3 linked regions of the Homo sapiens genome follow. Changing the gene in region 1 together with any one later gene gives a genetic interaction. Each region holds a gene or a part of one and is shown in the gene's direction. Other genes may lie near its edges. The genes, in order: NEMF, PAFAH1B1 and PSMD1.

Evidence for each region.
Region 2: changes in NEMF (region 1) and PAFAH1B1 together harm fitness more than expected from each alone (negative genetic interaction), as found in Homo sapiens cells (one large-scale study listed by BioGRID).
Region 3: changes in NEMF (region 1) and PSMD1 together harm fitness less than expected from each alone (positive genetic interaction), as found in Homo sapiens cells (one large-scale study listed by BioGRID).

What each region holds. Positions count from the first base shown.
Region 1 is NC_000014.9:49,781,583-49,784,185, reverse strand, and holds the end of NEMF (ribosome quality control complex subunit NEMF), read left to right. Parts: 3' UTR 1-1,232; coding exon of another isoform or gene 1,233-1,356; 3' UTR 1,357-1,591; coding exon of another isoform or gene 1,592-1,644; 3' UTR 1,645-1,728; coding exon of another isoform or gene 1,729-1,816; 3' UTR 1,817-2,103; downstream 2,104-2,603. Other genes in the region: KLHDC2 (kelch domain-containing protein 2), read right to left, coding at 1,233-1,356, 1,592-1,644, 1,729-1,816. UniProt on the Homo sapiens protein: Key component of the ribosome quality control complex (RQC), a ribosome-associated complex that mediates the extraction of incompletely synthesized nascent chains from stalled ribosomes as well as their ubiquitin-mediated proteasomal degradation.
Region 2 is NC_000017.11:2,670,154-2,673,808, forward strand, and holds part of PAFAH1B1 (platelet-activating factor acetylhydrolase IB subunit beta), read left to right. Parts: intron 1-9; coding exon 10-178; intron 179-2,501; coding exon 2,502-2,604; intron 2,605-3,655. UniProt on the Homo sapiens protein: Regulatory subunit (beta subunit) of the cytosolic type I platelet-activating factor (PAF) acetylhydrolase (PAF-AH (I)), an enzyme that catalyzes the hydrolyze of the acetyl group at the sn-2 position of PAF and its analogs and participates in PAF inactivation.
Region 3 is NC_000002.12:231,063,161-231,066,980, forward strand, and holds part of PSMD1 (26S proteasome non-ATPase regulatory subunit 1), read left to right. Parts: intron 1-3,745; coding exon 3,746-3,820. UniProt on the Homo sapiens protein: Component of the 26S proteasome, a multiprotein complex involved in the ATP-dependent degradation of ubiquitinated proteins.

The sequences.
Region 1 (2,603 bases):
TCCCAGTTTTATATAGAGGAAACACTATGATAGGATTTCCTAAAGTATTTGTGGACAGTTAAATGCTAATTATATACATCTGTAGTTATTCTACATTTTCTTGAAATTTGGGAGGTTAATACCAAGTATTCATTTCATGATGTAAAGAAACTGAACAGTGAAGTGGCTTGATTGCTTAAACTATTGACTTGGTAAGTCTACTGTATATAACATCTAATATATATATATTATAGGCCAGCTACAAGGGGTTTAAATATTTAGGATTGTGTCTTGAAAACTAAGTATTGGAGTGGATTTTCTTCTGCTTTCATTGATACTTGTCAGAAAAAAATATTAGACCAAAATGTAAAATATAAGTAATAATTCTCATGACTCAGCTTAATCATTTCTATTCATTTGTAGACCTTCAGGTTTGATCTTAATTTTTTCCTTGTAATCTGATTCAGTTCTGTACCATTTTAATTTCCACCTTTAGTAATTAATTACCAATATAGCACGTTAGAGTATCTTAACCTATAATACCAGAAGCGCATTTTAGGCTTACCACTAAAGACTCTAACCCACTTTTCCTCTGTCTCTTAACAGAATGGAAAATGATGTCATCATTATTTCCATTCCTTCATGAGCTATAAAACCTATTAATTAAAAAAAAACTTTTTAATTGACTGGACAGCACCTGCCTGTATTCAGCATGACCACTTGCTCCAGCCCCTACACTGAAGCATTAAGGTCAAAGTACTGAACAGTTGTTGGTCCCTCCACACTTTGTTTTTCCAGCTTCGTCATAATGTGAATATTAATGTTTAAAAAAAAAAACCTTTATTATATTGTATTTACAACACTAGGTTACATAACTATAGACTACTCTTGCCATTAAAAAAAAAAAAATCTATAATGTTTTCAAAAAATGACTTCAGCATTTTGATGATGGTAAGACTATAATGTTTCTACAGATACATATCCTGAAGTTACTGAAAAGAAAATGTAGCAACCATTCTTCAGGGTAAAAAGCCCAACCATTACTTTACTTTAATAGAGGACAGCTACTGGTGTTAAATACATTTATTGTAAACTTTAGACACAAAAATAGGTTCTCTAGGCCATTCACATGCACATTAAAACCAACAGGTGCAAACTACAACAATGCATATAATTATACAAATGATGCCACTCTGTGATGTTTACAGGATTGCTGTCCATGCAAGGTGATCATAGGCATTATTTATGAAGCCTTAAGATCCAGAAGTGTTGTTACTACCAAACCTCTGATTAACACTGTGAAGTAAGTGTTTTGGAAGGCAGTTCCATGAGTTGGCTAACATTTCTTTAAAGCAAATGACTGCTTCTAAGCTTAGCCTGAAAGTGGACAAGGAAAGAGAAAAGTAATTTCACTTTACTGTTTGGAAGTACATTCACTTGAAAAACTACATAAAACATCCCTCTTTCTTTCTTCAAAGATTTTCATAGGAACTGGTTATAGCAATGAAGTTTTATTGCCCTTAAATAATCCATAAACCTAGTTTTTCGAGAGTGCTAAGTCTTAGGAAACACAATTTTAAATAATCTAAGTGCCAAGTACAAAGTTACTTACCGTACAAGAGATTTTGGTTGAACTGAAAATATTAGTATTTCATTACTGTGTGCCTGAAAAATAAATAGGAAGAACACATTTAAAAGCAAATGCTTTGCAAGTAAGTTTCAGTAATAATGTGAAGGTAGTATACTTACAGCTCTGTGATGGACAAGCAAGTTGTTGGCACATCCACCAAAAACAATTACTTCTCCTTCATCGCTGGCACAAGCTGTGTGCCATAACCTGCATTTAAAACAAAAACGAGTTTGAAGCCACCCAGAACACCAGTTGGCCATTTTATACTACAGAATAGAGCTATGAAATAAAGACTAGCGATCTTAAGGTAGTTCAGACCAAAACATCATGGCGAGAAGTAAAATCTTAAGGGAAAGTAGCAAAAGCAGATCAATCAATATCTATTTTATCTGGATATTATTTTCTCTCTCTGGTCGTTCTCATTTATGCAATGAGGAGTTTGAACTGAACGATCTGTTCTCTAGGTCTTTGTTAGCAATAAAAATCGTATGGGAGCTGAGTAGTATATGCCTTCTTCTTCCATAGGTAGGGCCAACTGGCCTTACACAGAACGTCTGAGGGATGGTGAAAGCCCTGCTTGAGTAAACTATAAAGTCTCAGAAAGCCTGGTAGTTTTATGGAGAGATCATTTGTGCAAATGAAGTCTTACTTGCATGACTATACTTGGTTTAGATACTTGGGGAAAAAATGCAGGCTTTGAACATGAATTTTGACTGTATCATTTCCTTTAGCATTTTGTTCTGAGATTAACAAGAGAAAATTATCAGTGTTTAATAAGCTTTTTTTGGATGATTTGATTTCTTCATCTTTGTTATACAGTGCTACTGCAAGTCTAATTGACAGTTCTTGTTTTTTCCCCATGTATTTTTTTTTTTTTTAAGAGACAGAGTCTTGCTCTATCACCCAGGCTGGAGTGCAGTGGTGCAATCTCAGCTCACTACATCCTCTGCCTCCTGAATAGCTGGGACTACAGGCATATGCTACCACACCTAGC
Region 2 (3,655 bases), on another chromosome or scaffold:
ACTTGACAGGTGTGGGATTATGAGACTGGAGATTTTGAACGAACTCTTAAAGGACATACAGACTCTGTACAGGACATTTCATTCGACCACAGCGGCAAGCTTCTGGCTTCCTGTTCTGCAGATATGACCATTAAACTATGGGATTTTCAGGGCTTTGAATGCATCAGAACCATGCACGGTAAGGGGTAGAGGATAGTGCTTTAACAGTAATTTCTATCATGGTACTTCAGAAGGAATATTGTTTCTAACAGTGTACAGTGTTCCTTTATTCACCTCTTAATTGTCAGTATTGGTGGAAGAGCATACCATGTAGATAGTCCAGGGATAAGCCACAGTAGTTGAGAGTGCTTTCTATTAGGAAGTTTTAAGTATCTTTTAGTACTTTACATAAAATATTTGTATGAGTATTTCTTGGTAAGAAAAACTGCCAGGTCATTTATCTGTATTTGAGTTAAAAATGGTTTTGTTTGTGTTTTAATTTTTGTTAGTTGGGAAACTGAAGTCCAGAGAGAGTAGGTCGAGTGAAAACGAGCCCAGATTCTCTTGCTCACTTAAGTGAAATGAGCTGAGCGCACAGACCCCATGCCCTCGTTCATTATTTCCCGGGTCTTGTTGTGGGAACTGTTTTCTGAGGCAGTATGTTTTGTGGAAAGAGAGTAATTTGCTTTGGAGTCAGACACCTGGGTTCAAATTCCTACTTGTCTACTTACGGTATTAGAAAATTTAAACCTCTTTCATCTGCAAAACAGAGGTAATAATACCAGAGTCATAGAGTTGTCATGAGGATAAGATGAAGTCATAAGATAAATCATCTTGGTGTAGTACCTGCCACATAGGAGATGCTCATTACTTAGGGATTTTTGTTGTTTCTTTATACATGATGACATTTGAATGTTGGGATTTTGTACAAGGAACACGTTAACACATGAGTAAACTGTGTTTACCTAGAGGGCATAATTTGAAGGTTGTGTTTTCTCTGTCCCAAATTAAATGCATTGGGGAAGTTTATAATTACAGGAATTCCACGCATGAACACTGTTTTTTTGTTGTTGTTTTTTGGTTGTTTTTTTTTTGAGACTGTGTCTCACTCTGTCGCCCAGGCTGGAGTGCAGTGGCACAATCTTGGCTCACTGCAACCTCCGCCTCCCAGGTTTAAGTGATTCTCCTGCCTCAGCCTCCTGAGTATCTAGGATTATAGGCACGCGCCACCACGCCCGTCTAATTTTTGTATTTTTAGTAGAGACGGGGTTTCACCATGTTGGTCAAGCTGGTCTCGAACTCCTGACCTCCTGATCTGCCTCAGCCTCCCAAAGTGCTGGAATTATAGGCGTGAGCCACGTAAGGTCTATCATTTATTTTTCTTTAAGTTGCCTGTATCTTCTAGCTGTAACTTTAAAAAGAGTTCTTTCTAATGCATTTTTTTTTTTTACCCCCAACACCACCTTTTTTTTTTTTTTTTTTTTTCTGGAGATGGCCTCTTGCTTTGTCACCCAAGCTGGAGTACAGTGGCACAATCTTTGCTCACTGCAACCTCCACCTCCCAGGTTCAAATGATTCTCCCACCTCAGCCTCCAAAGTAGCTGGCAATACAGGCAAGCACCACCACACCCGGCTAACTTTTTTATTTTTAGTAGAAACAGGGTTTAACCATATTGGCCAGGCTGGTCTTGAACTCCTGACCTCAGGTGATCCGCCCGCCTCGGCCTCCCAAAGTGCTGGGATTACAGGCATGAACCACTGCGCCTGGCCCACCATTTTAAACAGAGAACCAATTCCCCATTTTTTGTATCCATTTGCTTTATCTTTTTTATATCTTAGAATATCAACCTAGAAGCTAGGCACAGTGGCTCACACCTATAATCTCAGCACTTTTGGAGGCCAAGGCAGGAAGGATTGCTTGAGGACAGGAGTTCGAGACCAGTGTGAGCAAAATATGGAGACCTTGTCTCTACAAAAAATAAAATAGTTGTGGGTGTGGTGGTACCAGATGTGGTGGTACACACCTGTGTAGTTCCAGCTACCCGACAGGCTGAGGCGGGAAGAGCTCTTGAGCCCAGGAGTTCAAGGCTACAGTGAGCTATGATTGCACCACTGCACTTTAGCCTGGGTAACAGAGCAAGTCCTTGCCTCACAAAAAAAAAAAAAAAAAAAAAAAAAAATGTTTCCCTAGCGTTCATATGTAAACATTCAGACTCACTGAGGTAAGTATATGAATATATTCAAATGTTGATAATCGTGATGCCTTTTGTTTTTAAACCATTTGTACAGGTTGAAATTTAATCCTAAATGGAGTTGACTATTTCCTTGTGGGTTGTTGTTTTACTGATTTTTTTAACTTTATCGTGTAAATCCAGGTTTCTTATCCAATTTGTATAAAATCCAGTGTATTTAGAACTTGCTTTGACATAGTGAAACCCCATGGTAAAATCCCATGGTCAATTGATGTTTCATTGCTCTTGGTGGTATATTACTTCATAATATATTGCTGTTATGTGTTTTAGGCCATGACCACAATGTTTCTTCAGTAGCCATCATGCCCAATGGAGATCATATAGTGTCTGCCTCAAGGGATAAAACTATAAAAATGTGGGAAGTGCAAACTGGGTAAGTAAGTTTAGTTGAAAAGGCATCAGCGGCCAGGTGCAGTGGCTCACACCTGTCATCCCAGCGCTTTGGGAGGCCAAGGTGGGCAGATCACCTGGTCAGGAATTGAAGACCAGCCTGGCCAACATGATGAAACCCCATCTCTACTAAAAATACAAAAATTAGCCGGGTGTGGTGGCGCACACCTGTATTCCCAGCTACTTGGGAGGCTGAGACAGGAGAATCACTTGAACCTGGGAGGTGGAGGTTGCAGTGAGCCGAGATCGTGCCATTGCACTCTAGCCTGGGCAACAAGAGTGAGACTCCGTCTCAAAAAAAAAGAAAAGGCATCAGCTTAAAGACATATTTATAAAAAACAAAATTGTGTTCTGGTGTTGCAGTCACTTCGACTTTAACCCGGAATGATCATTATGACAGTCATATTAAATATACTTTAAAACTAAGTTTGATCTGTACATGTCTCCCAAAAAGGAGCACAGAGACATTGTAAGGAGAGACTCTATGTCCTTGAGAAGCATTTCTGTGTAATGGCTTATTTCCTCTGTGGTCTTCTTTTAGGTGATCTCTCTGTGGGTTTAAATTAAAGTGTAAATAATCTTTGGCCGGGCGCGGTGGCTCACGCCTGTAATCCCAGCACTTTGGGAGGCAGAGGCGGGCGGATCATGAGGTCAGGAGATCGAGACCGTCCTGGCTAACACGATGAAACCCCGTCTCTACTAAAAATACAAAAAATTAGCCGGGCGTGGTGGCGGGCGCCTGTAGTCCCAGCTACTCGGGAGGCTGAGGCAGGAGAATGGCGTGAACCTGGGAGGTGGAGCCTGCAGTGAGCCGAGATCGCGCCACTGCACTCCAGCCTGGGCGACAGAGCGAGACTCCGTCTCAAAAAAAAAAAACAAAAAGTAAATAATCTTTGTGCTGGTATACCTCTGTTAGGCTGAATTTGGTTGTGCATAGAATTACACTTGATTTTTGTAGTACAAAGTTACTAGTTTTACTCAGATTAGTAGAGCATAGCTTTTTTCCAATATGGCTGGAAATACTTTTAAGTGTG
Region 3 (3,820 bases), on another chromosome or scaffold:
CTAAAACCCATACTGTTTCTATTTGTAACCGTTGTTTTCTTACTTGTTTCCTTATTTTTGAAGGAAGGGGATAACACACAGGCAAGGCTTTGAATTTTCTGACACATATTTCAACCAGAGTTGTAAATTCAACTAGTTATGTAAGATTTGATACAAAGATTTTATAGTGTAAAAAAATGCTTGAAAACTGTTGATGTAGTAAATGAAAGAAGGGACTGCATACCCTTCAGACATGTGTTTATCAGACTTTGGATTCATAGTACAGAGAGCTCAAGGGCATGTTCTGTCAGGAGTGTGCAGTGCAGATATTTCACATTGCTGATTAGTAGAAGGTCTGTATTATTCACTTGAACACTTACAAGGAGGAAGTTGGTATTCTCTTTTAGAAATTGGGAAGTCCTGCACAAGGGGGTTGATAGAGGTACCATCAACTGTCCTTGGGATTCTGTGTTCATGTTTTTAAAGTTTTTGCTATGATGATGTGAAAATTTTGCAAGTTACTTTATTGCTGTTGGAGGCTCATTGAATTGAGCTGTCATCTGTGAATCCAGTGGGAAGAACTGATGGCTTAAAAGGATGGACCGTATTATTTGAAACTAGACTACTTTCTTCACTTTAAGCTAGAAGCAGGGGGTGAAATACCTTACTTATCTCTTTTATTTGATGGATTTTTTTTTTTTTGAAAACAGGGCAGGATCTCACTGTGTTGACCAGGGTGGTCTCAAACTCCTGGCCTCAAGCAGTTCTCCTGCTTTGGCCTCCCAAAGTGTTGGAATTAACAGGCGTGAGCCACCACAGCCAGCCTTTTTTTTTTCTTTAATGAAGGTTTATGGTTTTTTACAACAGTGATCTACAAATGCTTAAAATGCCACCATTGTACAAATTGTGCTTTTAAACTGGACTGTTGGTATGAAGTGCTATGGCATGGTAGATGCCTTCTAAACACTGTATCATTTTACCTTTGGAAGGTGAGTTTTGATCAGTAGACCAGTTCTGTTTGCATTTATTTATTTAAAAGTGGGGTTCACCCTTCCTCTAGTTTTGTAGGGCACATTTTTTAAGATGTCAGTGAGATTCATGAGGGGGTATACAAAACAGAATTTGGGTAAGGCTTCCTAGCGTCTTAATGAATATCGTAAACAGTACCTCCAGAAAATCCAGGACTCATAAATCTCCAAGTTATGACAAGGCTTTAGCAGGAAATGAGGCTGAGTTTTAGTTATAACATAAACCTGGGATATATTTATGACATATATGCAAACCTGGTGAATGAGAACATGAATCTCATTTGAAACCTGGGACATACATTTTTCCCCTTCAGTTATATAATCTAAGGAAAATTCCCCAAATGTTCTAATTTTGAGGTTCCTCTCTGATGGGGTAGGGGTAATGTTTCCTCACTTAGCTACAGTTGGTTCAAAAAGCTCACATTAGGGCCTGGTGGACATTTTCAACAACTGGAATTCTTTAAGGTCTATTTTGCATTATAACATCCACTGTGTTTTTTTGTTTGTCTGTTTGTTTTTTGGCAGTTTTTCTCTGTTGCCCGGGCTGGAGTGCAATGGCACGATCTTGGCTCGCTGCAACCTCCACCTCCCTGGTTCAAGTGATTCTCGTGCCTCAGCCTCCCAAGTAGCTGGGATGACAGGTGCACACTACCACACCTGGCTAATTTTTGTGTTGTAGAAATGGGGTTTTGCCATGTTGGCCAGGCTGGTCTTAAACTCCTGGCCTCAAGTGATCCACTTGCCTCGGCTTCCCAAGATTTTGGGATTACAGATGTGAGCCACTGACCCAACCCACTATGTTCTTATTAACTGTACCTGAACCTTCATGGTTCCAGCTGAATCTTGAATGTAGTATATTCCAATTTATAAAAGTCCTCTGCTTCCTTCAAGATATAGACCCATTTAACCCGGGTCATCTAGTAGGCCAACAATCATTTATGCTAGTTAAAATTATTTTTATTTCTTGGGGCTATGGTTTGTAACTAATAAATCTTGCCCTCGTCTTCTTACTTATCTTTGAAAGGGAAAGAAACAAGCCAATGAATTATGGAGAGGATAATTAATGTATATGTCATTCCTCTTGGGTGACTGGGTTTTTTGTTTTTTTGTTTTTTTTGTTTTTTTGTTTTTTTGTTTTTTGTTTTGAGACAGTCTCGCTCTGTCTCCCAGGCTGGAGTGCAGTGGCGCGATCTCGGCTCACTGGAACCTCCACCTCCCGGGTTCACGCCATTCTCCTGCCTCAGCCTCCCGAGTAGCTGGGACTACAGGCGCCCGCCACCACACCCGGCTAATTTTTTTTTTTTTGTATTTTTAGTAGAGACGGGGTTTCACCGTGTTAGCCAGGATGATCTCGATCTCCTGACCTCGTGATCCACCCGCCTCGGCCTCCCAAAGTGCTGGGATTACAGGCGTGGGCCACCGCGCCCGGCCAGGGTGACTGTTTTATCTTCCTTATGAAGGTGGAAGGCTTAGGGAAATGTCCTTCTTTTGGTTGTACTTAGAAAGTTTAAGGTGTGATTGCAAAGATATAACTAAATTGCAAACAAATGTTTCTTATCAGGTGTGCTATTGATATCCTTCAGTATGTCACACCCTCCCCTCCATGCACCCAAATCATTGTGAAATATGGAAGCTAAATTGGGCACAAACACTTTTGCATGAATTTTCAGACACCTTCTTGGGAGAAATAGGTTCCACCTACCTCACATTGAGACAATAAATAGAGTCAGGAATCACATAATGACAGACTGCATAGACAACAGATGTCCCATAAGAGTACAATACCATATTTTTACTGTACCTTTTCTGTGTTTAGACACAAATGCTATTGCCTATAGTATTCAATACACTAATATGCTATACAGGTTTGCAGCCTAGAAGCACTAGGCCATACCATAGAGCCTAGGTATGTAGTAGGTTATATAACATCTAGGTTTGTGTAAGTTCACTCCATGATGTTTGCACAATGATGAAATCACCTAAAGATGTGTTTTCCAGAATGTATTACTGTCATTAAGCGACACAGGACTGTTTTTCAAAGGATCTGCTACAGTTGCTGGAAAAGTTTTTGGAAATCTTTGGAACTGCCTTTTAAACTTGTGGCACATTTCAAGTCATTTCCCCATTACCCTACAGAGACAATTTAGACATAGTTCTTACTCTCAGGTTGCTAATAGTTTCATTAATGCAAAGAAGTCCGATATACTACTATGTGATAATTGCTATAATAGGCCTTTTAAAATATCTTCAGTAATGGCAAATGTTTGTTTTTTGAAAGTGAAGCAGCAGCTATTTGTAGCCAGTTCTTTTGAATAAGCAGCTTAATCGGGTAGAGTAATAAAATTTTGATCAAAATGGAGTAACAAGATAGAAACTTTAAAAATAAATTAAATAAGAGACAGGGTCCCATTGTGGTGCTCAGGCTGGCGTTGAACTCCTGGGCTCATGTGATCCTCCTGCCTCAGCCTGCCGAGTAGCTGGGACTGTGGGTGAGCACTACCACACCTGGCAGATAGAAATGTTTTGAATAATGTCAACTGGATTGGAATTAATGTGTAGTTCTCCGGTGTAAATATTATGGGAGAACAGTATTCAAATGCATAAGTTCTAGCATTTCAAAATTTGCTTATTGCTTTATAGTCATCCCATAAGTATATATGATTATAAATATAGGCATTGCCCTTTCTGATAGTTTAGCCCAATTTACAAGATAATCAGTTATTTTATTTCCTCAACAGCAAAATGCATTGATCACTACACCAAACAATGTGTGGAAAATGCAGATTTGCCTGAAGGAGAAAAAAAACCAATTG